Linked DNA regions of Homo sapiens. The protein of the gene in region 3 purifies or fractionates together with the protein of the main gene of each other region. This does not show direct contact. Each region holds a gene or a part of one and is shown on either strand. Other genes may lie near its edges. The genes, in order: COL14A1, PKP1, FSTL1 and HEPHL1.

The links.
Region 1: the proteins of FSTL1 (region 3) and COL14A1 purify together in Homo sapiens (affinity purification with mass spectrometry; one large-scale study listed by BioGRID and IntAct). This does not show direct contact.
Region 2: the proteins of FSTL1 (region 3) and PKP1 purify together in Homo sapiens (affinity purification with mass spectrometry; one large-scale study listed by BioGRID and IntAct). This does not show direct contact.
Region 4: the proteins of FSTL1 (region 3) and HEPHL1 purify together in Homo sapiens (affinity purification with mass spectrometry; one large-scale study listed by BioGRID and IntAct). This does not show direct contact.

The regions. Positions count from the first base shown.
Region 1 is NC_000008.11:120,272,975-120,280,791, reverse strand, and holds part of COL14A1 (collagen alpha-1(XIV) chain isoform 1 precursor), read right to left. Parts: intron 3,308-7,817; coding exon of another isoform or gene 3,293-3,307; exon of another isoform or gene 2,860-3,292; intron 2,682-2,859; coding exon 2,558-2,681; intron 2,358-2,557; coding exon 2,214-2,357; intron 858-2,213; coding exon 693-857; intron 82-692; coding exon 43-81; intron 1-42. UniProt on the Homo sapiens protein: Plays an adhesive role by integrating collagen bundles. It is probably associated with the surface of interstitial collagen fibrils via COL1.
Region 2 is NC_000001.11:201,320,689-201,328,505, reverse strand, and holds part of PKP1 (plakophilin-1), read right to left. Parts: intron 6,529-7,817; coding exon 6,373-6,528; intron 5,494-6,372; coding exon 5,317-5,493; intron 4,079-5,316; coding exon 3,925-4,078; intron 3,566-3,924; coding exon 3,379-3,565; intron 2,753-3,378; coding exon 2,668-2,752; intron 1-2,667. UniProt on the Homo sapiens protein: A component of desmosome cell-cell junctions which are required for positive regulation of cellular adhesion.
Region 3 is NC_000003.12:120,400,555-120,408,371, forward strand, and holds part of FSTL1 (follistatin-related protein 1 precursor), read right to left. Parts: intron 4,418-7,817; coding exon 4,299-4,417; intron 2,801-4,298; coding exon 2,688-2,800; intron 2,365-2,687; coding exon 2,254-2,364; intron 1-2,253.
Region 4 is NC_000011.10:94,063,608-94,071,424, forward strand, and holds part of HEPHL1 (ferroxidase HEPHL1 precursor), read left to right. Parts: coding exon 1-113; intron 114-723; coding exon 724-903; intron 904-3,363; exon of another isoform or gene 3,364-3,688; intron 3,689-3,827; exon of another isoform or gene 3,828-3,888; coding exon 3,889-4,143; intron 4,144-6,766; coding exon 6,767-6,935; intron 6,936-7,817. UniProt on the Homo sapiens protein: Is a copper-binding glycoprotein with ferroxidase activity. It oxidizes Fe(2+) to Fe(3+) without releasing radical oxygen species. May be involved in the regulation of intracellular iron content.

The DNA.
Region 1 (7,817 bases), on a different chromosome or scaffold from region 3:
TGTAATATATTTTGTGTTTGAAAAGATTGTGATAATGCATACCTGCAAGATCAATGCCATCCTTGTGTACCACTGGACAGGCTGGAAAACCAAACAAACAAAATAAAACTCTAATTCGGATATTTCACAAACATACTCTTTCCCTGTCCTGAGAACAGGAAACTAATACAATCTTTCCAGAAGTTGATTGTGGAGAGAATACAAATCAAATGTGACTATGGTTTTCTGTGGTTTCATGAAGATTGAAATGTGCTAAGGTCCCTTATTACAACTAAAGGACCACAGCTTCCTTCTCTCCTGGGTTCATTAAAATCAGTGGTTATCACCTGAGAGCATGTATTGGGGCACATCTCCCTTGTAATATGTTGCCCAGATGAGAATTCTTAATACATTTTACATCTTAATACATTCTTAATACATTGAAAATTATTTACTACATCTGTTTAAGCACAGTTGCTTTTAAACATAGACTGTCATCTGATTAGGGAAGGTTTTTATCATTCTAAACTCTAAACAGAGGAGGGGAGGTTTATTTCCATATGCTCAAAGCCACAAAACTTAATGTCTATATAACAAGCAGTACTGGAAGTCAATATTCTTTTCTCAGATCTAGATCGGACTCACTATTTAACCAGTGTCAAATATTTCAGCTGTTAAGCAACATGAGTAAGTACAAATTCCAAAGAACTAACTTGCTGATGCTGTTTCGCAGACAAAAGTAATTAACTCATCTTCGATTTTCTTAAAGGCGTCAAAGTCATCCACAAAGAAGACATGGCGTGCGCTGGGCTTACTGCCAATGCTAACCAACTCCGAGTAATCTGCATCGGCCACACCAATTGCAAAAATGCTATAGCCTGTGGCAGACAGAGAACAGATTTCCGATTACTTTAAATTGTACAAAACACAAATAATGTAATATAAGACACATCCAACTGTTTAAAATATGTTTATTTAGGAAGGCCCATGGGGGTGGATAATTCATTCTTTACAGTTCATCAGAGTTCTGCATGTATATATTTCATTATGTGATAATGATTCCATCATCCCCTAAAGAGATTTTCCATTTTAAAGAAACCCAAGAAGACCAAGGCCCCAAATTGTGCCTGAGACGAAGTAGTTTGCATTTGAGTAATATCTCTATGGTTGCATATTCTTAAAAGTTACTTTTAACATTTATGGTATGAAATATACTTGAAACAGAGACACTGAGCTTATCTCAGTTTTTTTTTTTTTTTTCAGAAGTAGAAGCTGAGACATTAATAGGCCTAGCAACCTAAGGTGGGCCACCATTCAATGCTTGGCAAGTAAATAGAACTACTATTTGCCATAACTTATGTAATTTAATCTTCACAGCAGTCCTGTGAGAATCTCTATTTTACAGATTAAGAGGCTGAGGAATTTCTGTAATAAGGTTCCTTCCCTGGTCCATATATATATATATACATTCAATCAATATTTTTTCTTTTTTACACAATTTTACTTTAAATTCTGGGATACACGTGCTGAAGATGCAGGTTTTTTACATAGGTATACGTGTGCCATGGTGGTTTACTGCACCTATCAACCTGTCATCTAGGTTTTAAGCCCTGCATGCATTAGGTATTTGTCTTAATGCTCTCCCTCCCTTGCCCCCCACCCCCGACAGGCCCCCGTGTGTGATGTTCCCCTCCCTGTGTCCATGTGTTCTCATTGTTCAGCTCCCACTTATGAGTGAGAACATGTGGTGTTTAGTTTTCTGTTCCTGTGTTAGTTTGCTGAGGATGATGGTTTCCAGCTTCATCCATTTCCCTGCAAAGGACATGAACTCATTCTTTTTTATGGCTGCATAGTATTCCATGGCTTATATGTGCCACATTTTCTTTATCCAGTCTGTCATCGATGGACATTTGGGTATGATTAAGAGGCTGAGGAGTTTCTGTAATAAGATTCTTTCCCTGGTCCTTTTCTTACAGTACTTAATTGCTAGAGTTCCATATAAAGGGCATCCTGTATGTAACAAAAGTGTTAGAGAAAATAACCTATTTTCTCTAACAAAGCAGTACAATTACAGATTTGTATACCAGAAAGTATTTTAAAAATTACACTGTCTAGTTAATATGAAGAAATATTTTAAAACATTTAAGTAATGCTGATATAGCCTATAAATTTGTATTTAGAAAATAACAATTCTAACATCATATTTGGTAGCCACTATTGTTTATATATCTTACCATCTAATTGCATCTCCCTGGAGATTTTGTTCACATCATCTTGTGATCTTCCATCAGTTATAACCACGATAACCTTTGGGATGCCCCTTCTTGTACCTGACTCTGCAGTGAACAAGGTATCTCGAACATACTTAATTGCTTTTCCTGAAACAAAGAAAGGCAACAGTTTGATTTCACTCCCTCCCATTTTTGTTTTTCTGGAGAAGAAAGGGTGGGAACAAAGTTCTTAAATTAATGAAAAAAAAAATCTTTAAAAAATTACTATGCCTTAAAATAAAAGGTCATTTCAGTAGTTACAAATAATGAATTACTTTGAGCCTTAGCTGGGCTTCTTTTGGTCATACCTGTTTTTGTATTTCCTCCTTTGTATGAAATGTGTTTAATTGCATCAAGAAGAGTCTCTTTGGTTTTGTAAGCATTTAGTTTAAATTCTGTTCTGGGATCATCAGTGAACTGAACCATTGCAACCTGGAGAGAGAAGGTGTATTCATTTTCACACATATGTAGACTTCCACTGGGTCAGAGAGCAACAGCACAGTGTCACCTGTAGTTTTAATTTCTTCATTATCTCATTACAAAATCTGCTTGGATTAAAATTTCTTTCATACAAGTTACATACCAAATTTGAAGACAAATTAAATACATCTTTTCTTTTTTAAAAATTTTATTTTAGATTCAGAGGGTACATTGTGTAGGTTTGTTACATGGGTAAACGGCATGTCACTGAGAGGTGGTGTACAAATGATTCTGTCCCCCAGGTAGTGAGCATAGTTCCCAATAGGCAGTTTTTCAACCTTCAGCCTCCTTCTATTCTCCCCCTACTAGTAGCCCCTAGTGTCTATTGTTCCCGTCTTTACGTCCGTGTGTACTCGATGTTTAGCTCCCACTTCTAAGTGAGAGCATGCAGTATTTGGTTTCATGTTTCTGTGTTAATTTGCACAAGATAATGGCTTCCAGAGGCACCCGTGTTGCTGCAAAGAACATGATTTTGTTCTTTTTTATGGCTGCGTAGTATTTCTTGCTGTATGTTCACCACATTTTCTTTACGCAGTCCACCATTGATGGGCATTCCATGTTTGTTACTGTGAATAGTGCTGCAATGAACATAGGAGTGCATGTGTCTCTCAGTACTTTCAGAAAGTAGTTTTTTAAAAATCTTTCAAGCTTGTAGGATTTTTGCCACCTCATTTGACAGTTTAAAAATGGCAGCCTAAGCTTGGTAACTTGACAAATGTCCGAAAATCAGAGTTAGACTCTTTACAAAGATTTCCTTATGAAGCAAACCTATGAAGTAATTACTACTATTCTACTCACTTTACACTTGAGGAAACTGAGCTGCAAAAGACAAGTTACTTGCACATCACAAGAGTGGTCACTGGCAGAGTCAACAGTTGAAGTTAGGTCTATTCTAGGTCAAAATGTATGTTCTTAACCACTACTATACAAAGCTTTCTGGCTTCAGTTCTTACAACTGGCTTTTATTCCTGTGGAACTTTTGGATCATTTTTAATTGTTTTTTATTTGTTTTTCAGAATTATGATTTAATAAGTAAAGATAGCATCTTTCGAGAGCTTTGTTTAAATGGGCCTTAAGCTGCTGCCAGTTTATCAGTCTACTGGACATGTCACCATTTTTATAAAGTCTCCTGCAATTCAAAGGGAACTTGCTTCTTTCTGACATGCCTCAGCATGTTACCTATTCTCCTCTTTTTTAATAACCTAATTTTATTTTATTTTTTTTTATTATTATACTTTAAGTTCTAGGGTACCTGTGCACAATGTGAAGGTTTGTTACATATGTATACATGTGCCATGTTGGTGTGCTGCACCCATTAACTCGTCATTTACATTAGGTATATCTCCTAATGCTATCCCTCCCCCTTACCCCCACCATGCAGCCATAAAAAAGGATGAGTTCATGTCCTTTGAAGGGACATGGATGAAACTGGAAACCAGCATTCTGAGCAAACTATCACAAGGACAGAAAACCAGACACTGCATGTTCTCACTCATAGGTGGGAATTGAACAATGAGAACACTTGGACACAGGGTGGGGAACCTATTTTTATTTACAATACTTTTGGAGTACAAGGGTATTTGGTTACATGGTTGAATTGTATAGTGGCAAGGTTTGAGATTTTAGTGCACCCATCACCCAAGTAGTGTACATTCTATCTAGTATGTAGTTTTTTTATCCTTCATCCACCTTCCACCCTCCCCACTCTGAGTCTCCAAGTCCATTATACCACCCTGTGTTCCTTTGTGTAGCTACAGCTTAGCTCTCGCTTAAAAGTGAGAACATACGGTATTTGATTTTCCATTCCTGAATTACTTCACTTAGAATAATGGCCTCCATTCAAGCTGCTGCAAAGTACATTACTTTGTTCTTTTTTATGGCTGAGTAGTATTCCATGGTGTGTGTTTGTGTAAAATATATATATAATATATTTTTTTACATATATATATAACATTGTCTTTACTCATTGGATGACAGGCACTGAAGTTGGTTCTATATCTTTGCATTTGTGAATTGTGCTAAAATAAACATATGTTTACTGGTGTCTTTTGACATAATGACTTCTTTTCCTTTGGGTAGATAGCCAGTACTGGGATTGCTGGAACCAAAGGTAAATCTACTTTTAGTTCTTTAAGAAATCTCCACACTGTTTTCCATAGAGGTTATACTAAATTACATGCCCACCAGCAGTGTATAAATATTTCCTTTTCACCACATCCACACCGACATCTATTGTTTTTTGACTTATAATAATGGCCATTCTTACAGGGGCAAGGAGGTATCTCATTGTGGTTTTAATCTGCATTTCCATGATGATTAGTGATGTTGAGCATTTTTCCATATGTTTGTGGGCCATTTGTGTATCTTCTTTTGAGAAATGTTTATTCATGCCATTTTCCCATTTTTTGATGAGATATTTGTTTTTTTCTTGCTGATTTGTGTGTGTTTCTTGTAGATTCTGGATATTAGTTCTTTGTCAGATGCATAGTTTGCAAATATTTTCTCCCATTCTTGTGTTTTCTGTTTACTCTGATGATTAGCTGTTCAGAAGGTTTTTAGTTTAATTAGGTACCATTTATTTATTTTTGTTTTTGTTGAATTTGCTTTTGGAGTCTTAGTCATAAATTCCTTGCCAGGTCAATGTCCAGAAGAGTTTTTCGCAGGTTATCTCCTAGAATTTTTATCATTTCAGGTCTTAGATTTAAGGCTTTGATCCATCTTGAGTTGATTTTTGTATAAGGTGAGAGGTAGGGATCCAGTTTCATTCTACATGTGGCTATCCAGTTTTCCCAGTGCCATTTATTAAATAGGGTGTCATTTCCCCAATTTATGTTTTTGAATGTTTTGTCCAAGATCAGTTGGTTGTATGTATTTGACTTTATTTCTGGGTTCTCTCTTCTGTTCCATTAGTTTATGTGCTTATTTTTATATCAGTATCATGCTGTTTTAGTAACTATGGTCTTGTAGTATACTTTGAAGTCAGGTAATGTGATGCCTCCAGATTTTTTTCTTTTTGTTTAGGAGTGCTTTGGCTATTTGGGCTCTTTTTGGGTTCCATATGAATTTCAGGATTTTTTTTCTAATTCTGTGAAAAACGATGTTGATATTTGTATAGGAATTGCATTGAATCTGTAGATTGCTTTGGGAAATATGATCATTTTCATAAGAATTATTTCAATCCATGAGCATGGGATGCTTCCATTTGTTTGTGTCATCTCTGATTTCTCTTAGCAGTGTTTTGTGATTCTTGTTGAAGAGAATTTCCATCTCTTTAGTTAAGTATAATATATGCCTAGGTATGTCTATTTTTTTTGCAGCTATTGTAAAAGTGATTATGTTCTTGATTTGATCCTCAGGCCTTATCTCTTATCTCAGAATTGATCGTTGGTGTATAGCAGTGCTACTGATTTGTATACATTGATTTGTAACCTAAGAGTTTACTGAATTTGTTTATCAAATCTAGGAGTCTTTTGGAGAAGTCTTTAAGTTCTCTAGGTATATGATCATATCATTGGCACACAGTAATAGTTTAACTTCTTCTTTTCCAGTTTGGATGCCCTTTATTATTTTCTCTTGCCTGATTGCTCTGGCTAGGACTTCCAGTACTATCTTGAATAGAAGCGGTGAAAATGAGTATCTTTGTCTTGTTCCAGTTCTCAGAAGGAATGCTATCAACTTTTTTCCATTCAGTATGATTTTGGCTGTGAGGTTGCTATATATAGCATTTATTATTTTGAGGTATGTCCTTTCTATTCCCAATTTGTTGAAAGTATTTATCATAAAGGGATGCTGGATTTTATTGAATGCTTTCTGCATCTATGAGATGAACATATGGTTTTTGTTATTAATTCTGTTTATGTGATGTATCACATTTATTGACTTGTGTATGTTAAGCCCTCTCTGTGTCCCTGGGATGACATCCACCTGATCACAGCGTATTATCTTCTTGATGTGTTGTTGGATTTGTTTAGCTAGTATTTTGTTGATTATTTTTGCGTCTATGTTCACAAGGGATGTTGGCATGTAATTTTCTTTTTCATTATGTCCTCTACTGGTTTTTGTATCAGGTAATACTGGCTTCACAAAAAGATTTAGTGAGAATTCCCCTTCTAATCTTTTAGAATATTAGGTTGGTGCAAAAGTAGTTGTGGTTTGCACCAACCTAATAGTTTCCATACAATTGGTACCAATTCTTCTTTGAATGTCTGGTAGTATTCATCTGTGAATCCATCTGGCCCTGGGCCTTTTTTTTTTTTTGGAAAACTGTTTTAAAATCACTGATGCAATCTCACTGCCTGTTGTTGGTCTGCTCAGGGCTTATTCTTGATTTAATCTAGGGGGGTTGTTGTTTCCAGGAATTTATCCATTTCCTTCAGATTTTGTAGTTTCTATGTATAGAGGTGTTCATAATAGTCTTGAATAATCTTTTGCATTTCTGTGGTGTTGGTTGTAATGTCTCTATTTTCATTTCTAATTGAGACTATTTGAACCTTCTCTCTTTTTTCTTGGTTAAACCAGCTAATGGTCTATCAATTTTGTTTATCTTTTCAAAGAACCAATTTTTTGTTTCATTGATCTTTTTTATTGCTTTTTGTTTCAATTTCATTTAGTTCTGCTCTGATTTTTGTTATTTCTTTTCTTCTGCTAGCTTTGGCTTTGGTTTGTTCTTGTTTCACTAGTTCCTTGAGGTGTGACATTAGGTTGCCAATTTGTGCTTTTTCAGACTTTTTGATGTAGGCATTGAGTGCTATATATTTTCCTCTTAGAACTGCTTTTACTGTATGTCAGAGGTTTTGACAACTTGTGTAAGTATTATCTTTCATTCCAAATAATTTTTAAATTTCCTTCTTGATTTTATTATTAACCCAAAAATCATTCAGGAGCAAATGGTTTAATTTCCAAGTATTTGTATACTTTTGAGGATTCCTTTTGGAGTTGATTTCTAGTTTTATTCCATTGTGGTCTGAGAAGATGCCTGATATGACTTTGATTTTTAAAAATTTATTGAGACTTGTTTTGTGGCCTATCATGGTCTAGCTTGGAAAATGTTCCATATGCTGATGTGAAGAATGTATATTCTGCACTTCT
Region 2 (7,817 bases), on a different chromosome or scaffold from region 3:
TCAAGGCGTGAGGATTTAGGCTAGTATTATTTTTTAAACAGAGCAACAATCAAAATCAGATTAGAGAAGCTGTCAATTGTTCTTCCCTCTGACCACCTCTATCTTTTCTTTTTTTAAACAATTCTGACAAGAGCTCTTGGGCAGAGAGGACATGCCCATTGTTTCTCAAACACAGGAGCAGGGGGCTCGCACTGGTAAGAAGCCGCTGTGCTAGAAGGTTCTGTTTACTTGTCTGTTCTTCACCTCCAGCCCCACTAGCCCCTGAGTGCCTGCTGGATGGAGAGTGAGTCTTATTCCTGTTATTTCTCCCAGCATACAGCAGGTGCCCAATACATGCTTCCAAGTGAATGTGGACAGCATGATTTGAATGCAGCAATAGGCCAAGGTGCCCTTGAAAAGAGGGTCCTGCTGCCAGCCCTGAGCTCTGAGAGCCAAGCCAGCCATCACCGACCTGTGGGAACAGGAGGGGAGATGGCATAGGGGATCCGAAACAGCAGCCGGTTCGAAGCCCTGCCCCTCCTGTCTTTGGGCATGTATTACATGATGCCATTTTTCTTCTGCAGATTGGCATGCTCATTCCTGTCGAGCATGGCTCATGCCCTGACTCACTGAATCAAGACAAACTCCTTGGACCCTGATTCCCTATTCAGCAAAATGGACACAAGCCATGTGGCCTGTCTCACCTGTGCTTGTGACAACTCAATGCATGATGGATGTGAAGGCCCTTTGGGAACAGACGCACCAACTAGATCATGCCCAGGATGGTTGTCAAGCATAGCTGGAAGGAGGAGTGGAGACTGAATGGGGACGCTGGTTCCCAAAGGCATGTGTAGAAGGGAATTCCCACCGAGAGCGATGTCAGTGGATTCTCTGTGTGTCTTAGGCCGGGGGTGGACTCTGTGTTTTGGGGTAAGCTGAATGCTTTGGACCACCATTACACAGCGGGAGGAAGCTCACACCAGTCCTCCTTACCTGCCTCCTCGTCTCCCTTTGTCTATCTGGCAGTTGCCATTTGCCAAGCCCATCTTCAATGCAGTGCTGTTGGAAAGGAGCTCTGGATTGTCACATGGAGAACAAGGGCCACCCTTTGCTGTGACCTTCAGATTTCCCCAATCATCTTTGGACACCGTGCGTTCATGAGTCTCCCTATTGTCCCCTGCCATGCTGGAGGAAGAGCTGGGCTTCCTTCTGCCCCACGCTGCTCAACCAATCCCCAGGCTTCCCTGTCCTCCATCCCTGTCTTTCTCCCTTCTTTGCCTACTCCCTCTCCTCCCATGACAGAGATGCTTGAGTCTCCTCTGTCTTTAAACAGATCTCTTTTTACCCACTGTTTTGCTCCTTTTTCTGCAGGCTAAATTGCAGGGAGCAGCATCTCCTCTCAGCAACTCCCCATCCATCCCCATCCACTGCCTTGCCCACTGCAGCAGGCCCCATGGGGCTCCCCTTGCTTGGCCAGCAGTGCTCCTGGACGGCTCCAGAGACTTCCGAAGCACCGGATCCAGGGCCTTTTCCAGTGTCCATCCCCTGGTCCTCTAGGTAGCCCTGGGAACTGCTGCCCTGCCTTCCTTAGAGCTTTCTCTTCTTACCAGGTCTTCAGCCCCTTCTGGCACCCTGCACAGTTCCTCTTTTCCCTGGCCTTTCCTCCTTCTTGTCCCCAGCAGATGGTCTTCATATTTCTGCCCTGTCCTTCAAGACTTTTCCATACACATGCAACCCATGGTGGTCTTGCCTGTTCTCATGGCTTCGCCTGCCTGAACAAAGCTCCACTCTGTATGGTAGCTCTGGCCCCTCTGCCAGGGCCCACACCACCTCCAGCCTGGACTCCCATCCAAGTCTTCCAAACTCAACCTCTCCAAATTGGGACCCCTCTTACTCCCACCTAAAAGCCTTCTCAGGCTCTCCTCATCTGATGTGTCTTTATGAATATAACCATAGTCTCCAAGCTAAAAGCTCCAGCCTAATCAGCCCCACTGCTCCATTTCTTCCACCTCCTGTCCTTTATGTCCATGCTTATCACTGAGGAATGGGAAAGAAGAGGCCATGTGAAGATGTCATACAACAAGACCTTATACCCTAGAGGACTCTGTACCTGGCTAGCTGGGGAGGGGTGGAGGACAGAGAGGAGGCCAAGGTCACCACAGGACAAGGACAGCAGCCTCCAGGCTTCTCAGCCCACTCTGCCTTGCTCACAGGGTGAGCTTTGGTGCTGCTTTGATCATGAAACCCTCTATTCAAAACTTTGAATGGTTCCCCAGTGCCAAAGGTACAAGTCCAAGCTCTTCAGTTTGACATTAGAAGGGTTTTGTAACCTAGCCCACACCTACTTTTCTAGCTGGAGTGAACCCCATGCCCTCAAAAGACTTGTGTGCTTTTTGTCCACTCTGTTTTTCAGTTTGCTCCTAAAGGATCCCACCCCAGGCCTCTCACACATTTCCTTGATTTCCTCTGCCCTCCATGTTCTCAGCATCCCTCGCAGATCTCAGAGCCCAGAGACTTGATCAGAACGTTCATCACATTCATTTTCACGTAGACGCTGTCTTTGTCTCTCAGACTGTCCCGAAGGGCAGGGGCGTTTCTCTAGTGCCCAGCCCAGAGCCCAGCATATGCCAGGCCCTCTGCTCATGAGCAGGAAGAACCTCAGAAGAGGATGATGTCCTGGGCTCTTACCTGTCTGAGGACACCCTGCAGTTCCTTGCTGGACCACATGTCAGACAGGAGAAGCCGGGCAGCTTCTGCGGCCTTGGGTGAGGCACTGGGCAGGTGAGAAGTGCATTTGTGAGATGAGATTCCAGGAGGTGTGAGAAGGAGCACCCTCTTCCCTCCCACCCCCACTGCCAGGGCCTGGACACAGGGGAGGCCTCAGAGGAGGCCTCAGGTGTGCAAAAGAGAGGAGCCCCATTGGGGTGTGGTGAGCCTGGTCACCCTACCCAGTGGGCACAACCCCATGCCCCTGCCCACCTAGAGCACCCCAGGACTCTCCTCAGGGGCCATGAGGTGGCAGTGCTCTTCCACTCCAGTCCCCAGCCTTGTCCGGGGAAGAGAGAGCCCCACAGAGCAGGATAAAGTCCCTATTCAGTTGGACCTGCTGCCCCATGCCTCCTGCTGGCCCTCTGAGGACCTTGTGCCCCCGAGTCCCCCAGCCAGGAAGTGTGTTGCCTCTTCCCTCCATGCAGCCCTGGGGCCTGGATGCTGGACCCTTCTCTCCACGCACTCTCGGCTTCTGGAACTTCTCCTCCATTCAAGCCTCCCCCGTCCCTGGCTCCCCCTGCCCTTGGTGCTTCCCCTACTCCATGGAGAGCTGCGGGACTGCTTCCTGCTGTGCAGGGTGAGGAGGGGCTCTGATTGGGGTGCAGCCCGTGGGAGCAACCCCCCGCCCACCTGCTTCGGCACAGGTTGATGATGTTGTTGAGCATGCTGCTGGAGAAGTACTGCTTGGCCAGTTGTGGCTGCGAGGCCATCAGGTTCCTCACAGTGTAGCAGGCCGAGGACAAGATGTCTTCGGAGTTGCTGGTATTGCCAGTGTGGCTGGTGAGGAGCCTGGTCACCTCCGGGAACACCTGGTTCCCTGGGAGAGGAACGAGTTGGGGCACAGGGTCAGGATGACTGGGGAAGGAAGGGCTGAGGGGTTCCCTCTGGGGCCACACTCTTCGATAGCCTTCTGCCGGGCTCTGAGCCAGGTGGCCCTCAGGGCTTCCTGGCAGCTCCAACTCAGGGCTCAGAGACCCAGATAGGACTTTTGCAGATCTGCTCCCAGCCCTCAGGTGACAGGCTCCCTTCTCCTGTCTCCATACCTGTCTTTGGCCAGCTTCCTTTCTTGGAATGCTCATCCCAGGGAATGGCTTAAAGGATGACCTTCAAGCAGGCTTGAATTGTAGGGAGCCTGCCATGTCTTAGCTAGAGGGGGAGGAGAGAGAGGGACCTTACCCATCACTCTGTGCAGCAGAGGGTGGCGGGACATGTTGCTCAGGAGGGAGGCTCCGGACCGCACCACATCAGAGTTGCCAGATTGCAGGAGGCGGGCAATTTGTGGCAGGCCCTTTTCCTTCAGCCCAATCAACTGGCTCATGCCACTGGACATCTAAGAGAGAAGGAGTAGATGATGAGCTAGCCTGTGGCTTCCCAGGCACCATGGCAGGCAGAAAGGGGCAAGGAGCCCCAAAGGCAGACATCCCAGAACCCTTTCTCTTTCATATTGGAAGCACTAGCTCACATGTGGGCAACTACAGAAACCTAGGCTAACATGCACCTCCCCTTTCCCAGCCCTGATCCTGTCTCCTGGATCAGCCTGCAGCCCAGATGGGTGGAGAGAGGGAAGTCTCATTTCCCCTACTCATAGTGACCCAGAGTTAGCTTCCAGAGTAACCCAAGCGTCCAATGCTGCTCTCTCACCCCACTGTCTCAGCGCTGCCCCCATTACATCTCCCCACGCTATCTGCCCATGTGAAACTATATGGTCAAGGGTATTTGTCAATTAAACATCTGGCCATCTTCTTCCAACTTTCCTACCTCTTTAGAATCCAACACATATTTGTTGAGGGCTTGCCTGAGAAAAGAGGGCTAAGAAAGGGTCTGGGCCCACATGGAGAGAGAACTGGGGTCCCCTAGAGGTAGGCCAGTTCGCCCAGGCCTCTAAGCAACATAGCTATCCTGGGTGTAACAGGTCTAGGTGGGTTTGGCATTCTCAGAACTGCCCAGCCTCTCTCCTCACAGCCAGGGAAGTTCTCTGCCCTCGGTCTACTCTAGTGCTGCTGCTGCTCGGTTCCCTTTTCCTAAGTAAAGCTGAAGAACAGTTGGCCGCCTGGCCCATCTCAACTCTTCTTGATTGCAACAGGTTTCCTCTGGCTCTGCCCCATACCACTGTGCCCTCCAAGCTACATACATTTGGCCTCAACATCTGCACGGATTCTGTCACATCTTCTCTGGACCTGCTTGGACCCCAAACCCTCTTTTTCCACCTTTGTCAGTTCAACAAATGGGAAACTCCTTTTGCCAAACACCTTCTCCGCCGCATTCCCCGACCTCAAGCAGAGCCCAGGAGGCCAGCTGGGGACCGGGAGCCATGTGGCCAAGGGGATTGTGTGTGCATGGACAGAATCCAGCATCAGTGGGCCCACCCTCTCTGCATCCCCCAGCAGCTCCTAAAGGGCAGGAGTGTTTCCCCATTGCCCAGCCCAGAGCCCAGCATATGCCAGGCACACTCTGCTCATGGGAGGCTCCGAAGTCAGGGGACAGGCTGGGGGGAAAAGGAGGGAGCAGAGGCTGGACGGTGGCTGGAGGATGGGGCTGCTGCAGTAGAGAAGGTACAGTCCCACTCACCAGCCCCTTGCTGGCTGTCAGGTTCTGCAGGGCACCAGCACAGGCCTCCAGGGTAGCATCTTTCTTGCTCTTGCCCATGAGGTTCAGGTAGGTGCGGATGGCATCTGAATGGTACAACCAGCCGCTGCCCTTGGGGTTGGTCTCTTCCTCAGGCAGGGGGCAGTCATAGTTGTTGTTCTGAGGATAAAGAGCCGGTCAGGGGGGTCAATGGGGAGCCTTGTGAGAGGACACAACCCAGGCATTCTGTCCCCATCCCCCCAGCCTCAGGGTCGTGGTTCCAGATAGGGCAAGCTGAGGAAGCGCCTGCAGAGGCAGGGGGCCCAGGACAGCCCCGCTGCACCCCTTTCCTCTATGCACTGCAGCAGCTCCATGGGATGCAGGAATGGGCCATGGTCCCCCAGACTGTCCCAGGATGTGGGAGAAGAGAGCATCCTGGCATCTTGGGAGCTGTGTTCCAGGGCAGCCTTGGCCCAAACCTTCCAGATATGTGGGGCTGCTTTGGACTCTCCCATCATGATGCTTCCTCCTCTTCCAGACTCAGACAGTAGGTTTGACCCACCCTGGGCCAAAGAGGGTGGTCTGAGACCTGGATTCCACAGCTGGGCCCAGTGAAGGAGACCTGACAACCCATCCCTGGTAGGCTTCTGCTTCTGGGGAAACCTGGCAGGGCTCAGGAGATGGTGGGAACCAAGGCCAGAAAGAGTGAGAGTTCTGGCTTTCCTCAGATCCTCAAGGGCAAGGGAGAAGATGGGGGAGACTTGACCCACTATACAGGAAGAAAGACCAAGGCCTGCAAACAGAAGGCTGGAGTTTTTGACCTCTAAGGTGGTCTGAGCCCCTACAGTTCCAAGAACAGATTCCCCCTTGTGCAAGATGAATGGCCTCTACCCAGCTCCCAGAGTGCACCCTGAGCCCCAGGCCAAGGTGTCAGCATGGGCCTGTCCCTTAGGGCTGGCTTCAGGCTCCAGGAGGGCCCAGAGGAAAGGGCAGATGAGGCAGTGGCTCCTGGGGGGGTGCTTGATGGGGCAGGCCCCGCCCTGCTGATGCTGTGCTCACCATCATCTTGTCGCTCTTGTTGCTGAAGCAGCCAGTGGAGGACTTCTCGGTGTAGGCGTTGCGGGCGTTATACTCCAGCTGGCGGTAGCGGGTGGGCACCTCGGCGTCCAGGCGGTAGGAGAGGTTGTGCAGAACACACATGCAGTTTTCCACAGACTGGGGACCAAGGAGAGGCATGGGCCTGAGCCTCTGCCCGGCCCGACAGGCTCCTGGCCTACCACCTACCCTAGCTAATAAGAGAGCAGAGGCACCTGGGCTGCATCGGGAAAGATGAGCGCAGGCACCACCACACTATCAGCCTGGGAAGTCTTCCAGGGCCACCTCTGGGACCTGAGTTTGAATCTGTCATTTCCTGGCTGCATGAACTTGACTGGCCTCACTTCTCTGGGCCTCAGCTATCTCAAATGTAAAATGAGACTACAATTGTCCATTTCACTAGGCTATTTGGAAGATGATACAGAGAAAGCACTTATCACAGGGCCTAGTGTGTGGTAGGACTGCTATGGACAACATGCCAATGGGCAGACTGGGATATTGAAGAATGTGTCTTTTTTTTTTTCCAGAACAAACTCCTCCAGAAGAAGCCCCATGCCTCTAGATTCCAAAGCCATCTAGTGCCCCCATCATTCTTTCTTCCTGGGGCCAGTCCTTAGCTGTCAATGTCAGCGGTGCTAAGTCCACACAAAACACAGCAACACCTGGAGCCCAGGGCTTCATCATGGCAGCTGGGCTCAGATCTTTGTCAATCTCCTTTGGCAAACCTCCAAAGGACTAGGGTTTGGGGGCAGCAGATTTACCCTCCTAATGATGTTTGGCCCTTGCTGGGGTCTAAGGGAATCTGACTTCCAGGGCTTGGGGTTACACAGGTGTTGGAGATATTGCACACAGAGCAGAAAAGCATCTTGCCCTTTGGAAGCAGGCTGAGCAGCCCAGTGACAAGGCTCTCCTCTGTGGCCCTGCTGTTGCTTCCAGTGGAGGGAGCAGGAGATAAAATCCCTCCTTACGGCAACTGTGCTGAGAACCCAGGTGCTGTGATGTCAGCCCGTTCCCTGGCGATCTGGAGCCTGCTGGGCCTCACTATCTCCTGAGCCACTGTCCTGCCATGGTGGGAACATCTCAGCCTTCTGTTTATCTGCCCTCCACAACTTTTTTTCTTTCTGTTTGTCTGTGCTGTGTGTCCAGAAGTCCAGAGAGGGCAGCAAGATGACTGCCAATGGCTTTTCTGGGAGGCAGTGGGAAGATAGCAGTGGCAGAAGGAGCCTCATCTCAGGGGGGACACTAAGCCCTGGGGGCACCAGTATGGATTCCTCTGGGCTGTGGGGCAGGGCTCGGGGTCACAGGACAGGCCTCAGCACCACCAATGAAGCACAGCCAGCAGATGCTCGCTGGGAGCTTCCTCTGTGCCAGGCCCTCTTCGTGTTTTGCTTATTAACTAATCAAGCCTT
Region 3 (7,817 bases):
TTACTAGGTTTAGGATGAAATCTCTAGGCTTATCAAGTAGAATGCTGACCATTAGGAAACACTTCTAGGACATATCTTCCAAACATTGCTATCAACCTTCCCTTCACAGCAGTTTCCCTTGGCTCTGCCTCCTCCTGGCTTCAAATTTTGATGCCCCTTCTTGCTTGTCCCATTTTGATTTGTGATCTAAGATCAGACTGCTAACTCTCAGGTATTAACCTGAAAATGCCCCAGAATGCTGGCTCCACAAACTCCTCTTAGATCCACGGCCTACACATCCATACGTGCTCAGGCCCCTGGGGCACCACCATCTAACATGGGTTGCTCCATGTTATACCCACATAGAGTTCTGGACTTGGTCATCCAGGGAGGATGAGCAGCCCATAGCTGAGTGGCTGTGGAAATGGGCAACATCCCATGAAGCTGATCATTTGAATTTTGTCTGATGCATGTGATAGAGATTATTATCCAAATGACCATGCTTATTCTATAAGCCAACTGCATACCAACTGCCTGCACCTTAGAAATGGAGGGCTACCTTTACAAAGCCAGAACAGCAGCAGTTAGAAGCGGAGAGGTACTGAAGGGAGTTTAGGGAAGACAAGTATAGGATGCTTCATGGTTGAGGCAGGCTAGGCCACTGACTGTTTTGAGATGTGTTTTGTTGGTTTCAGTAGCAACTCTGTGTTTGGTCTGGAGATCCTGGCTTGGTCTTGACTTCTAGGAACTTGTAGGAATTTCTAGTCTCTAAACAGCCTCTTCCTGTTCCTTCACCTGTCCCTGTAGTTACATTGGTTTGCTGTCGTTCCACACTGAAAACAGACTTGGTCCTGGGCAGCGGTAGACCAGTGATACCTTAGATAGTACTGGGCCATTTATACTGTTGCTGTTCTCTAGGATCCTTGTCTAGAAGAGCCTCATCCTGGGTTTCTGACCTCTGTCTCCTAGTTACCATTTAACCTGATCTTCCTGAACATTATCTTAGGTTCCAGCCAGCTCTTCCTTGACACAGTTAACTTCTTAAAATAAACTTTTTTTTTTTTTTTAAGACAAGGTCTTGCTCTGTTGTCCAGGCTAGAATGCAGTGGCGTGACTATGGCTCATGGCAGCCTCAACCTCCCAGGCTCAGGTGATCCTCCCACTTCAGCCTCCCAAGTAGCTGGGACTACAGGCACGTGCCATCACGCCTGCCTAATTTTCACATTTTTGTAGGGACATGGTCTCGCTATGTTGGCAAGGCTGGTCTTGAACTCCTGGGCTTCCCACTTTGGCCTCCCCAAGTGTTGGGATTATAGGCATAAGCCACTGCGCCTGGCTGATATAACTTTAGGTTCACCCTAGCTGGTGAAACTTTTCGGCCTGGTTCCAAATGACCTTAAGGCAATTCTCCGTTGCAGACCTGGCTTCAACACCCTTCTCTGTCTTGCCTCCACTCTGAATATCCCTGGTTCTTTGCTAGGGCTCGGCTTTAAGAGTCCCTCTTGATCTTTGGCATCATTGTAGCCCAGGACCCAGATGGGACTCCAGTGGTTCCAACATACCCTGTAGCCTCACACTGCCCCACAAACTCTCAGATTTCTCTGTCTCCCCAGACCACCCTGCACATATCTCAACTAGCTCAACTTTCTCTTTTTAAAAAAGATTACCCATCTCTGTTAGTTGAAAGAGGGTCTACAAACATATTTTCTTTTTCTGCTGGGTATGGCAAGGAGAAGTCATTTTGTCTTCCAACCACTAGTCTTTTACCATTTCCTAAGGTGTTATAAGGATCAATGGGTTAATATGTAAAGTGCTTAGAAGAGAGCCTGGCACATGGTTTTTGCTGAGTATTTGCTTTCACTGTTACTATTCCATTATTATTTTTGATTATTATTAAATAATAATTATTGTTTTTATTTTAATGTTTTAATTATTAAATAATTACTATTTTTAATTATTATTCCATTATTACTACTTTCACTGTTACTATTTCCATAATGTTACTATTCCATTATCATTTACTTTTGCCCAGGGTCTTGGTCCTCTCTTATTCCAAGCCTCTGGAGTGATTTTCAAACTGAATGCCTATGGGATAAATGTTCTGCCCTCAAAGCTCCCCACTTGGGGCTCCAACCTTACAGGTGTGGGTCTGCCTGGGTTCCTTGCTCCCAGCCACCGCCCTCTTCTCCATCATCCCCACCCCAACTTCTCTCATGCTGATTTCATGAAGCTCTCTCCTTGCTGTTTTTTCTTTCTGCTTGAAGCACAGCTCACCGTCACAGGTCATGGCTGTACAGACCCAATTTCCACAGGCACAGACACAGCGGTTACAGTCCACCTCGGTCTCAGCTCCATCTGCATACGTTTCATCCTCCAGGGCACACTCTGTTGGGCCAGAAATACGGGGCAACAGTTTAGCTGTGAGGGTGGAACAGGGCATCTTTGCTACAGTCTGTGCACCTTACCCTTTTTTCCCAGACAAGACCTGCCTGTCCCTCAGAAGCACTATATCTGAGCAAACACTACCATCAACCTAAAGAATGTGGGGCCCTAACTTCACCATGGGGAGAATGGGCTGGGGCCCAGTTTAGAATCATGGAAGGGGATTTTCTCAGCTAGCTCTGGAGAGTTCCACCAATCCTCTCTATCTTGGCTCCTACAAAATGCCTCCATTCACTACAGCTCTCTATTTCTTAGGTTAGGCATACTCTTCTCAGGAGGGTTGAAAGATGGGTTGAGGCACTTGAGAAACTCTTGGAAGCTGAGTTTCCAATCAGCATTTTCATCAGACAGTTCAATGAGAGCATCAACACAGAGTCCCCTGAAACAAAACACAGGAGAAATGTGTTAGCAAGACCTCAGCTTCGCTCAGAAGAAAGGAAGTAAGCATCAGGACCACATACACCCAGGGCCTCCACAGGAGGCCAAGAAGATGACTGCTAACTAAAACAGCCTCTCTCTACACTGACCCAACACAACTATTATCCATCCTGACCAATGCAGGCATCTAACCTTTAGTTTGTTATATGAATGTCAGATCACCCAGGCTGTCCAAATGTTCCCCCCCTTAAGATGACTAAAGTTTCGTGAATGGTTTTGTCTAATGTTTTCACTGCCTGCATACCTTCCACTAGCAATTGCTTTTCCCCATGGTATATACACGTCAAGTCAACCAAACTAGGAAAATCAAAACAGAAGAGATATGACAGATGACATGAAAGGAATATAGGATTTGAAAGAATATGAAGTTCAAGCAAGAATCACCATTATCATCCTTCTAGAAAGAGATTTTCAGAAAAGCTTTTAGAACTCAGCTCCATCAGCTTGCAGTGAGCCGAGATCCCGCCACTGCACTCCAGCCTGGGCGACAGAGCGAGACTCCGTCTCAAAAAAAAAAAAAAAAAAAAAAAACAAAAACAAAACAAAACAAAAACAAAAACAAAAAAAAACAAAAAACAAAACAAACAAAAAAAAACTCAGCTCCATCACTTCTTTCTTGGGCTGTATTTGAGCCCTGGCTCAATCACTTACTACTCAAATGGACTTGAGTTAGTTATTCAACTTTTCTGAGCCTGTCTTCCCATCCGTAAAAGGAGGACAAGAAGCCCTCCTTCACTGGGATATCATGAGGCTCAAACGTTGAAATTATAAAACATATAATTTCAGATTATCAAAATATGAAGGATTTACAGAACCTATACTTTAAGGTCATAGACTATTATTAAAGAAGAATCCTTCTAGAAACTGTGCAATGCACTTCTTTTGAAAAAAAGACATGCTTTTCCTATTTTTAATTCTTACCGATGTGCTGAAACCACATCAAAAGTTTCTTAGCGATTAGTTTTTATTAATATTGATTCTGGAATAATGCCATAAAAGTAGACGGGCATATATCTGTAACAGTTAGGGCAATTGACATGAAATAGCACTAATTATCTAAAAATCAGAACAAAGCTATTTTAGACCTATAGTTAAATAATACATTACTGTAATTCCTTCAGAAAATTAATCAGTAAAACATCACCCACAACATTCAGAAATAACTTGCTCTGACGTGCCCTTGGCAATTTATTTTAAAATTATATTCTTCTAGTCCTTGCAAGTTCTGACCAAAAACAATAACTATTTGATTAGATATCAGTGGTACTCAATATATTAATTCATACTTTCATAGAATAGAACAGGACAGAATTCCCATTTTGCTTTTTACGTGACATTCTCTCACTGGTGGCTCTTTTGCAGGTGGGAAAGGGTTTAAGTCCCCTCTCTCAGTTAGTCTTCCCTTGTGGATCATTCTCTGACCTCTCGGTTCCTCTCACCTAAGCAACTTGTTGTTCTCCTGGTCTGGATACGTTGTAATATTGATGGCAGTTTCATTCTGTTCCACAAACTTCAGGAATTCACTGGAGTCCAGGCGAGAATCACCATTATCAAAGTTCTAGAAAGGGCATGACAAGATCGTTCAGGGATGTTTTGCAGAACCCCTGTTCCATCATTACTCCACTCAGCTGACCTGCCTCTGATTCATCTTGTTCTTGATACATTCCAACCCTGCCCTGACCTCAGAGGGCCTTGGCAACAAATGCTCTAATCCCTGGGACATGCAGAGAAGGTACCTGTGCCCACAATGAGAGAGGAAAAGTGCCTGGGCAGAGGAGGCAACCTGAACTGAGGCCTCTGGGGTCCCTAAGCATGCTGTGTGGCCCCATCTCTGACACTGCCCTGTAGACACTTTTGACTATACCTTTGGGTTCAGACCAACCTGCACATCATGTTCTCAAGCCCTGATGAACATGTAACAAGAGTTTAAAGTTGCACGCTGTGAATCAGAATCTCTGTAGCAGGTCCCAGAATATGTTTCTAATGAGCTGCTCAGGAACAGCAGCAATGCAGATGACCCTCTGAGCTCACTTTGGAATTATAGGATTCCAAATCTTGTTGCTTGATTCCAGCCTCCTTGTCCTGTTCTCAGTGCTTAACTTTCACTTTGGTGCCCGTAACTGATCACATCAGTGAGAACTCAGGCAAAGGCCTCAAAGCAATAAGCTACAGACAGGGGTCATCATGCAAAGTTCCCGCTCCTCTGCCCTGTGGGCCCCACTGCAGATGTGTGCACAGGTCCTCAGATCATCCAGCTCAGGCTGCCCTCATGACCCAGCTGGCATCCCACAAGCACAAAGTGAGGAGTGCAGTAAGCTCACACACTGTTCTCTATGGCAAGATGCTAAACTGAGACCTCAGCCATCTGGGACCATTCAAGACACCCAGGCACTAGCTGCAGGAGGAGGGTGTCAAATCAAGACTGATCAAATTCCAAGTTGCATATGGCTGCTCTCCTAACAAATTTCAATAACATTTTCCCCCTTCCTCCCAAATCCTTTCCCTAGGCTCCCTCATGCTGCTGCCCTGGGAAAGGATCAGCTTCCCCATGTTACTTTCAAGATGGCTCCCCAGATGGTGCAAGGGATTCTGGAAGAAACATCTATCCAAATTTCTAGATAGAAGGGGAAGATGTAGCTAACAACTCTCCTCTCCTGCTTGCCATGTGTCACAGGTGTTCCACTCTAATGTTGTATAATGAAGGTGTGCATGAAACAACTATTAGGCCTTTGCTTAGTACGTACTTATCATTCTTGTCCTAATTCCTAGGAACAGGTCTCTGATGTCCTTTATTCACTATACAATTTTCCCTGACGAAACTTCCCTGTTTACCTTGTGAAGTCTTGATTAATTAATGGAAAATAATTAAATAAGTTTGGCTGGGGGCCATTGTTAGTAGCACAGGGCTTTCTTGAGTTCAAATATTGCATGTGCTGGGTAAATGACAGCAACCCTCAAAGACTCCAGTGTCATCAGGGCCTGATGATGGAATGAGTGTAGGGAGGGGAAACGTCCAGCACTAGCTACAGACCCAGTGCCACATGGCCCAAGTGGGCACCATGAACCTGGCAACCACAGTCCAGGCAGCTCTCAAAAGGCAGTGCTGTGTACACACACTTCAGTAGGACTAGAATAAGGCCTGCAGCTGGGGGAAGGTCCAGCCCATGTGCTTTCTCAACTCATGAGGGTCCAGTTGGGCCTCCCCAGGCCAGAGTTGTATGTAGAATCCACAGGAACACAGAATTCTGGTGCCTGCCCCAGAAATAGCCTGGAATGCCTGGGGGGTCTGCCTGTGAGGTCCTAATCATGGACCATGAACCAACCTAATTTATTGAGCCTCTCTTCAGCCAGTCAGTTACAAAGACATAATATCTCTCTGTGCCTCTTTCCCCAGCTCTATACAGGTTGATTATCCCTTATCTGAAATGCTTGGGACCAGAAGTGTTTCAGATTTCAGATTTTGGAAAGTTTAAATATGTATAATGAGATATCTTGGGGATGGGATCCAAATGTAAACATGAAATTCATCCCTGTTTCCTATATACCTTACACATATAGCCTGAAGGTAATTTTATACAATAGTTTAAATCATTTTGTGCATGAAACAAAGTTTTGACTGTGTTTTGAATGCTACCCATCACATGAATTCAGGTGTGAAATTTTCCACTTATGGCATCATGTTGGTGCTCAAAAAGTTTCAGATTTCAGCATTTGAGGTAACAAAACTTTTCCTCTATCTAACTGTAGGGTTGTGGAAAGGCAGAAAAGATGTATGTCATGAGATCTGTTCTTGGGGCTTATCAATGTAAGTTTGGAGACTCTTCAGAGGAGATGGGCTGAGACAGGCACTTGCTTGTGCACAGCAGCTGGGGCTGTGTGGGCTGTGGTGCCAGGGTAAAGGAGATAAGAAGGCTGGCTCAAGTGTCAGCCCTGGCCATCAGGAGCCACAGGGATTGAGATCACACCCAGATGAAATTAGGAATGGATTAGATTCCAAATTCCAAGAGCATGGAAGGCTCTTTCTACCTGGGTCTTTCTTTCTTCATTCTGTTACGCTTTCACCTAAGAAACAGTGACTACATCACTGGTTATGGTGAAAGTCAGATTTTGGCCTTATTCAAATTCTAATTCAATTTGGTTTTTGAACAATTTTGATGTAAGAAATGCCAGCTGGGCTGGGGAGCATTTCATTGGTTCATAACAGTCTCTTTGAGATATCAGACCTCTCACCAACAGGCAGCTGCTGACCTAGGAGGAGGCAGTCTCCCTTTGAAGACAGCAGCATGTAAGACTCTGATAATCATCAAAAAGTAGAAAATGAAACCTGTTTTCTCCTGTTAGACACTGCCAGAGTGTCTGGGAAGAGGGGATTTTGTGTCTGTCAGTCATGATCAAGCTTTCTTAGATGCCTGGTTGTGAGAATGTCCTAGAGAAGAGCTACTTTCCCAAAGGGCCTTATAGCTTTCAGAAGGGAGCCTGTAAAAGTGAGTTACTGCTGGAGGAGATGGAGATGTGTTGAGGGGAATGTGGCATAGGTTCTTGGGAATCAAATCTAATAGCAGGTGTCAGTGATGCCTGAGGCAGAGTGCCATCAAAGGGCCACTAAAAAATGGTTACAACGTCCTAAGTGGCCCCTGGGAAGGAGTGTCCTGGGCCCCACACCTCCTATGCTGTAATTGCAGGGCAAAGTCACTGCTCACACACAGCAGGCCCTGCAGGTACCTTTACCATTCGCTCAGCTTTTGAACAGTCACTTTCTTTACATTACTTTCTGTTCCTGTCCAAGTCTCCTGGCTCAGCACTATGATGTGTTTTTCTGTAGAAGAGGAACCATTCTTCCTCTAAGGGCTCTGTAATGTGGGAGTGATTGAGAGAGAGGACAGAGCAAGAAAGGCTGTGCTTTTTCATCTGGGTATGATCTCAAAAACTTGGAATCCAGAGATTTAGTATCTGCCATA
Region 4 (7,817 bases), on a different chromosome or scaffold from region 3:
TGCACCTACTCCAGCCGATGCCAACTGCCTGACCTGGGTGTACCATTCGCACATCGACGCCCCAAAGGACATCTGCTCTGGGCTAATTGGGCCCCTGCTGGTCTGCAAGGAAGGTAAGGAGCTTTGTTTCCAGGTAACTAGGGAGTTGAAATGTGAATAAGATTCAGGTCTTATTTTGCCTACCTCCTTTGCTCCACACAGAATGTGCCTCTTCCAAATTTCTTTAGAAATTCTGACATGGAAGATCAATCTGACACCATAGCAGAGGGCAATAATTCAGATTTTTGTCTAAGAATCATCACAGCATTCTGAGACTTTATTGTTATTTTAAAAAATGATATTTCATAACACAATGTATAGAAAAGTGAGAAATTTAGTCAAATGACCAGTAATGCCTTCTGCTTCATTATTTCACCCAAATAATCATTTGCTATTTTATCCCTTATTAGTTGACTTAGCATGTCTGTAGTTTGTCAATAAAATGGACTCCCTTTAGAGACAGCCAGTCTTCCAAGTATGTGATTATGAAGATTTCTGTTTTATGACTTTTCTCTTCTATGGCTCTGTCATCTCCATTAAAGCCTTTTGCTGATTTTATATGGTGGGTTATCCTTGTAGGTATAGGTCTTCACCAAACTTCACACTTGCCTGACACTATTGGAAGGAAGCAAAGCTCATCTTGATTTAGTTCTTTCTCTCTACTCTTTTGAATGTGCCTGACAGGTATCCTGAATAGATATTCAGGGACACGGAATGATGTGGATCGAGAGTTTGTTATAATGTTTACTCTTGTGGATGAGAATCAAAGCTGGTACCTCAATGAAAATATCAAACATTTCTGCACCAACCCTGATTCAGTTGACAAGAAAGATGCTGTTTTCCAGAGGAGTAACAAAATGCATGGTGAGTACCTCCCATGTTCCCAAACGTATACCAGGCCTTTTATACTATAAGGTACTACAAGGGATAAAAAATACACAGAAATGTTGATCTGAGTTTGGCATGATTTATAACTCAGGGATGACCATGGTTAGAAAGTGATACAATACATGACACATGTTTGAACCTGAAACAATCTGAGGGGGACAGAGCAGTGGATGCATGCTAAATTGGGCATGCAGTGTGGACAAAGCCACAGGGCTTTGGGAAAATGGAGGGATCGATGTTATATTGTAATTGGAAAAGAATCGGTGCCTGAGGTGAGCCCAGAGCATGGGTGGGCTTAGACTGACTGGAAGGAGAAAGGAGAATGAAATCATCGTTCTATAATAATCCTGTGTTTTGCAACATTTTGCTTCATCCAGTAACCATTTTCTGAGCCGCTGATAAATTTTAAGAACTGAGTTATGCATGGGGTTTAAATAAGCACTTGTGAATTCATTATATTTCCCAGGCATTCTTTACATCAACAAAATTTACTGAGCATGCACTATACATCAGACTCCATATTTGTTCAAAATAGTGAACTTCTATAGTTACTTCATTAGTTGAGATGGGGCACTTACTCATGCCTGTTTTGCAAAGCAGTAGCTTAATGTAGCATTTTAGGATTTTCTTAGAGAGTTCTAGTGAACATAAAGGAAATAGTCAACCTACATATCCCACCTTATTCATTGACATATCTTCTCCTTCTATTGCTTCTCTGTCTCTCAGAATTGTTCTAACCAAGGTATCCTCAATATAGTCATAAAATCATAAGAGGAATAGAAGGAGCTGAAGATCATCTAACGTCTCCATTTTACAGAAGAGAAACTGAGGTCAAGAGACTATCAATGACTTGCCTAAGGTCAAAGTGATAATTAATGCCAGAGAGTTTCCTGAGAGAAGTCCCATAGCAAATAAATGTAAATTTGGCTGTGTTTGATTCCTAGGCACATCAAGGCATGATTGTCAGTACATTGATTATTTCCATTGTATTGCATGCCTTCTTTTTTCCTTCTAGTGGTATTTTGGCAACCTTATGTGTAGTGATTCTTGGAAAATATTTTAGGAGGAAAGGAAGTAAGGGAGAGAAGGAAAGGGGAAGGCAGGGAGGCAGAGAAAACAATGAAGGATGGAGTCAATGAAGACATAAATTCAAATCATTGCTGTGACCAGTTGTAATGCATATCCTTTACAAAATGGGAGTGATGATCTCAAATATTGCAGAAAACTACTAATTGTGATTACTTAAGACTCACCTGCCCAAATAATTCCTCTTACTCTGTATTTATTCTTTTGAAGTGAAAATGTCCAACAAAATGAAATGAATTACATAAGCAAACATAGATTACATGTATCATAAAAAGAAGCCTGTCCAGGCACAATGGCTCATGCCTATAATCCCAGCACTTTGAGAAGCAGGTGTGGGAGGATTGCTTGAGGCCAGAAGTTCAAAACCAGCCTGGGCAACATAGGTAGATCCGTTATCTACAAAAAATTCAAACAAACAACAAAAAAAATCAGCTGGGCATAGTGGCACATGCCTGTGGTCCCACCTACTTGTGATGCTGAGGTCAGAGGATTGCATTAGCCCGGGAGTTTGAGGCTGCAGTGAACTAAGTGCCACTGCACCCCAGCCTGGGTGACAGAGCAAGACCCTGTCTCAAAAAACAAAAACAAAAAACCCTAGCCTGTATGCTGAAGTAGATGTGTGTTTGCAAACAATCCTTCAAGACTGGAAAAGGGTGGGGTATTGTGGCACACGCCTGTAATCCCAGCACTTTGGGAGGCCAAGGTGGGAGGATCACTTGAGGCCAGGAGTTCAAGACCAGCCTGGCCAACATGGCAAAACCTGTCTCTACTAAAAATACAAAAATTAGCTGGTCATGGTGGTGGGCACCTGTAATCTCAGCTACTGGGGAGGCTGAGGCACAAGAATCTTTTGAACCCAGGAGACAGAGGTTGCAGTGAGCTGAGATTGTGCCACTGCACTTCAGCCTGGGTGTGACAGAGCGAGACTCCATCTCAAAAGAAAAAAAAGAGAGAGAGACTGGAAAAAGAGACCTAATCAAGTAAAGGAAAAAATTTAATTAAAAAAATCTAGACTATGGAAGATAATTAATATGTACAAGTTTTATTGATCAATTTATTTAAATTTACTAAAATAATTTAGAATTAATTGTGCTGCCTAAGTCATCAGGCATTTCAGCAACAATTGCTTTTAACTCAGTTCGAACTTAAGAAGGGATATTGTGACTTTTTAAAGCCCTGAATCAAGTTCTTTTCTGAACTTGGTCAACTCCCAGCTGCCATTTAGATGGTTTTAAAGTATTCGGTCCTGGATTTACGCCATAAACTTAATAAGATTCTGCTCCAGCAACATGTAGTAAAAACTGTTTTTCTCTTGGCTTTTTAAAGTAAACAAACAAACAAACAAAACAGTTCTCATAAATTCCTTTTAATCAATTCCTTTTCTTTCCATCTTACTACATGCTTTTGTCACTTCATTAAGTAGATACTATGTGCCAGTTTTTCTGCTAGGTCCTGATAACTGTTAAGATGAACAAGACAGGGTTTCTAGTTCCAAGGAGCACAGAATCTGGTGAAGACAGCAGATATGCCAGTGAAGGATTATGACAGAAGGTGACTGAGCCTCCTGTAAATATGAGCAGCACTCTGTTTTCTCCTGACCTCATATTGCGTTCCCACAGCAGCTCCGAGGCTGTTCTCAGTGTATGCTGATCTTCACTTTTATTGAGTGTTTTCTCTGGAAAAAGGCCAATAAAAACATTTCATTTCTCTTTTGGACAATATATATTTCTAAGAGCCAGGTTTTTCTGCACCAAAACCTTACAACCAATGGTCTGCACTGGTTTTCCAGCCATGCTTAAGCCCGTATTACCAACATTTCTGGTCCCAGTCGCCTCTGCAGGGGAGTCTCTTCCACTAGCGTGTTTCTGTTTCCAGCCCTCAATGGATACCTCTTCGGAAACTTCCCGGAGCCTGATATGTGTGTTGGAGAATCTGTGTCCTGGCACCTATTTGGAATGGGGAATGAAATAGACATCCATTCTATCTATTTCTATGGTAACACCTTCATCAGCAGAGGGCATCGGACTGATGTCGTCAACCTGTTCCCAGCCACCTTCCTTACAACAGAAATGATAGCCGAGAATCCTGGGAAGTGGATGATAACCTGCCAGGTCAGCGACCACCTACAAGGTAAAAAGGATAAAGACCAGAGTTGATATGTTTAGAATGGTACAATCAAACCACACAGTCACTAGTGCTCATCCAGTACCTACTGTTAGATAGAGCCTTGTATGTACTATATTTAATTAGGTAATAAATATACAGGAAAATATAACGCTCATCTCTTTGATATTCTATCAACAGATATTTATTGACCACTTCTGTATGAAAAAAGTGGGGAAGTGATTAAAAATTGATGAGACCTTCGAGGAACCTGTAGTATAGTTGTTAGACATAGTTAGACATTCACAAAATGAATACGATTTAAGGCAGAATGAGATAAATGCTCTTTGGGTGTTGCAGTCACTACTCTGGAGCAATCAGAGGGGCTTCCTGAGGAGCTGGCTCCTAACATGAGCCTTGAAATATGAGTAGGAACTGAATAGATGAAGAAGGAAAGAAAGACTTTTGAGGAAGCAGCATGAACTGGGAAAAACACATGTTCTTTTTGAGCAACTGTAAGTAGAGTAATAAGGTTTTAGCACTGGAAAGGACTTTCTGGATAATAAGGACCAATCCCCCCTCGAATTATTTAATTTCGTTTTGAACATCTCTTGTGAGTAGTTATAGCAGCTCATCTCATCTCTGGACTGCTCTATTGGAATGTTCTTCCTCAAATTGAGACAAAATCCATTGACCTATAGCTTCCTTCATGTCCTATGATAGGTGCATGATAAACATTTGTTGGCTTAAATGCCTGTTGAATGACCTGGTCCTGGTTTCTTCAGACATCATACACTATGTCCTTTCTTAGCTGGACCATAATGTTCCTTACAGAGAAGTGATGACAGAAGAGCCTGGGAGGCTCATCAGGCCCCTTAGCAAAGCTAAGGAGGTGGGGCTGTGTGATCCTTAGCTCTTTTGGCACACTAGTGACATAATCGGTGCAGTTATTTAAGAAGATAAATGTATGCATGCAAGAAGGACTTGATGGAGGAATTCTGACCACTGGATGCTAGTTAAGAAGCATTTGACAGTGTTAGAGGTCTAACACCTAAACGTCTGCCCTAAGATGATGAAACCAAGACAGAAAAAATATGTTAATGGAATAGACACAGAAGAAATAATGTCTGATATTTGGATACTAACTTCCCATAGTCACTAATAGGTGCAAAGATCCAGCTGCTCAGGGCTGCTTTTGTAACACATTCTTGTTCCTGTCCACCTTCCACAGTGAGTCATAGCATTAGTCAACTGCAGTATCCCAATTACATTCAACTGAAAAATTAATCAGTTAATATGTACTAGATGCTCTTCTGGGAAAACAAAGATTAACAAGAGAAGGTTTCTATTCTCAAAGAGTCTTATGCTGTTAAATCTGGGAAGAAACTGTAGATTTAAAATCAAGATATTAGCTGCCATTTGAGACTAGTAAGATCGCTAAATTAGCCCGATAGTTGTGGACATAAGCTAGTATTTATACGTTCCCTGAAATACAGTATTTCTAAATTGTCCATGCCTTCAGAAAAAAGTTATTGTAAAAAAATTAGAAAATACATATAATTGGAGGTTTTTTAACAAATAGAGACAGGGTCTTGCTATGTTGCCCAGGCTGGTCTCAAACTCCTGGGCCCAAGCAATCCTCCCACCTTAGCCTTTCAAAGTGCTGGGATTATAGGCATGAGCCACTGGATCTGGCCCCTATAAATTGGTTTTAAAATCAGTAGTTCCATAATAGAAATATTTTATATTCACATTTTGGTGAATATCTTCCCTATTTTCTATTTCTTAATATGTAAATATATATGTATTTTAAAAAATGAAATCAGTCTATTAATGCTGCACTGTAGCTAATTTTTCTCATTTACAAATATATCAGAAACACATTTTCATGTCGGTGAATATAGAGCTTACTTCATCATGGTTAATACTTCCAGTGTCCATTATAAGGAGATTACATCTTGCTTAATCAATACTCTATTGCTTAATGCTTATGTTTCCCACCAATTTTTTTGCTATTATAAACAGCACTGATGACTATTATTTATAGATGTTTGCACTTTTGTCTGAACATTTTCTTAGAAAAACTCCTAGATTTAGAATTTCTGGGTCAAAGAGTATGATTTTTTTAAAAAAGCTATGGACATACATTGCCACATTCTCTTTTGGAAATTGTTATTCTTCTACACGAAGTGTATGAGTATGGCTCTTTCCCCATTCATCTACCAACACTGAGAATTATTAGTCTTTCTAATCTTTACTAATCTGATCAATGAACAATAGTATCATTTGAAAACTGTTAAGGTTTGAGTACTATTTGAGTACTGTTAAGGTTGAACCTCTTTTTCATTTGTTTATTGGCCAATATTATTTATTTTGTGAATAAACTATTTCTGTTCCTTGCTCATTTTCTATTGGAGATTTACTTGTTTTCATCTTTATCTGTAAAAGTGATTTACGTATTAATCTTTTGTCATATGTGTCACAAATATCCCTCCTGTTGCCATTTATCCTTTTTAAAAAAACTTTCTTTATGGTCCAATTTTCTGTACAGAAGCCTAAATGTTCAAGAGCCAAATCTATCAGTCTTTTCCTATATGATTCCTTTTGTGATCATTTATGCCTCAGCTCGTGGTTTTCCTCTGTTCTGCAGCTGGTATGCTGGGGCAATACAATGTTGATAACTGCAAAAGTGATATTTTCTACCCCAAGATGAAGGGTCAACAGAGGCGCTACTTTATAGCAGCTGAAAAAATTCTTTGGGATTATGCTCCTCAAGGCTATAACAAATTCAGTGGTCTTCCTCTAAACGCCTCTGGCAGGTAAGCACCCTTTGTTGGTGTTTCTAAGCCTCTCGTCAGAGAAGCATGTGTTAGGCTTTCTCTGTGATCTAATTTGTATTCCAACCACTGCTCTGATGAGCTTATACTGCATAGATGGCATAATGTAGCTGCTTAAGGTGTTCTTAATACTGCAAAAGCACTGCTGAGAACTGGTAGAATATTTTTTGTTTTGTGACTTGACGGCTGAATCAAAACACTAGATCATTCACTCATTGATCAAACATTTCTTGAGTAGGCACTATGTGCAAACTATAGTGCAAAGTGCCATTAGAAATACTAAGCTGACAAAGAATAGAGTAAGGCCTTTACACATATGGAGCAGACAGTCTTGAAGAGGGAATGACAGGAGATGGAGATGACCTGGCCTAAGAGGGTTACCCTTTTTGGTTCAAGGATATCCTGATTTAAGTTGTGTCCCCTTTATGTCCTACAAATATTCTTTTCCTTTCTATTCAGTAAAATGCCATTTTTCTTTCAAAGCCTTACTCTAATGTCACCTCTGAAGTGAAACCTTTGACTCTTGATATAAATGAATTATGTTCTCTCTGCGCTCCCATAGAATATACTATTTAAAAAATTAATCTAGCAATTTATTAGGTGGATCTGGACTCCTGTGACTTGTTAGTATATAATCATATGCAAAGTTGTCTGTGAAGATACTAAAAAATGTACAGTGTGATATCAAGAATCCTTTTTTATATTTAAGGGAATGTTTTAAAAATTCTCTTTGTGATCAATAAAACATCATTTGTTTCTTTAATTGTACATTTTATTCATTCATTCATTCATTCATTCATACTTTCACTCATTATTCTACCAAACGGATGCACTTGAACCCTGTCTAAAGAATTTGTGTGAACC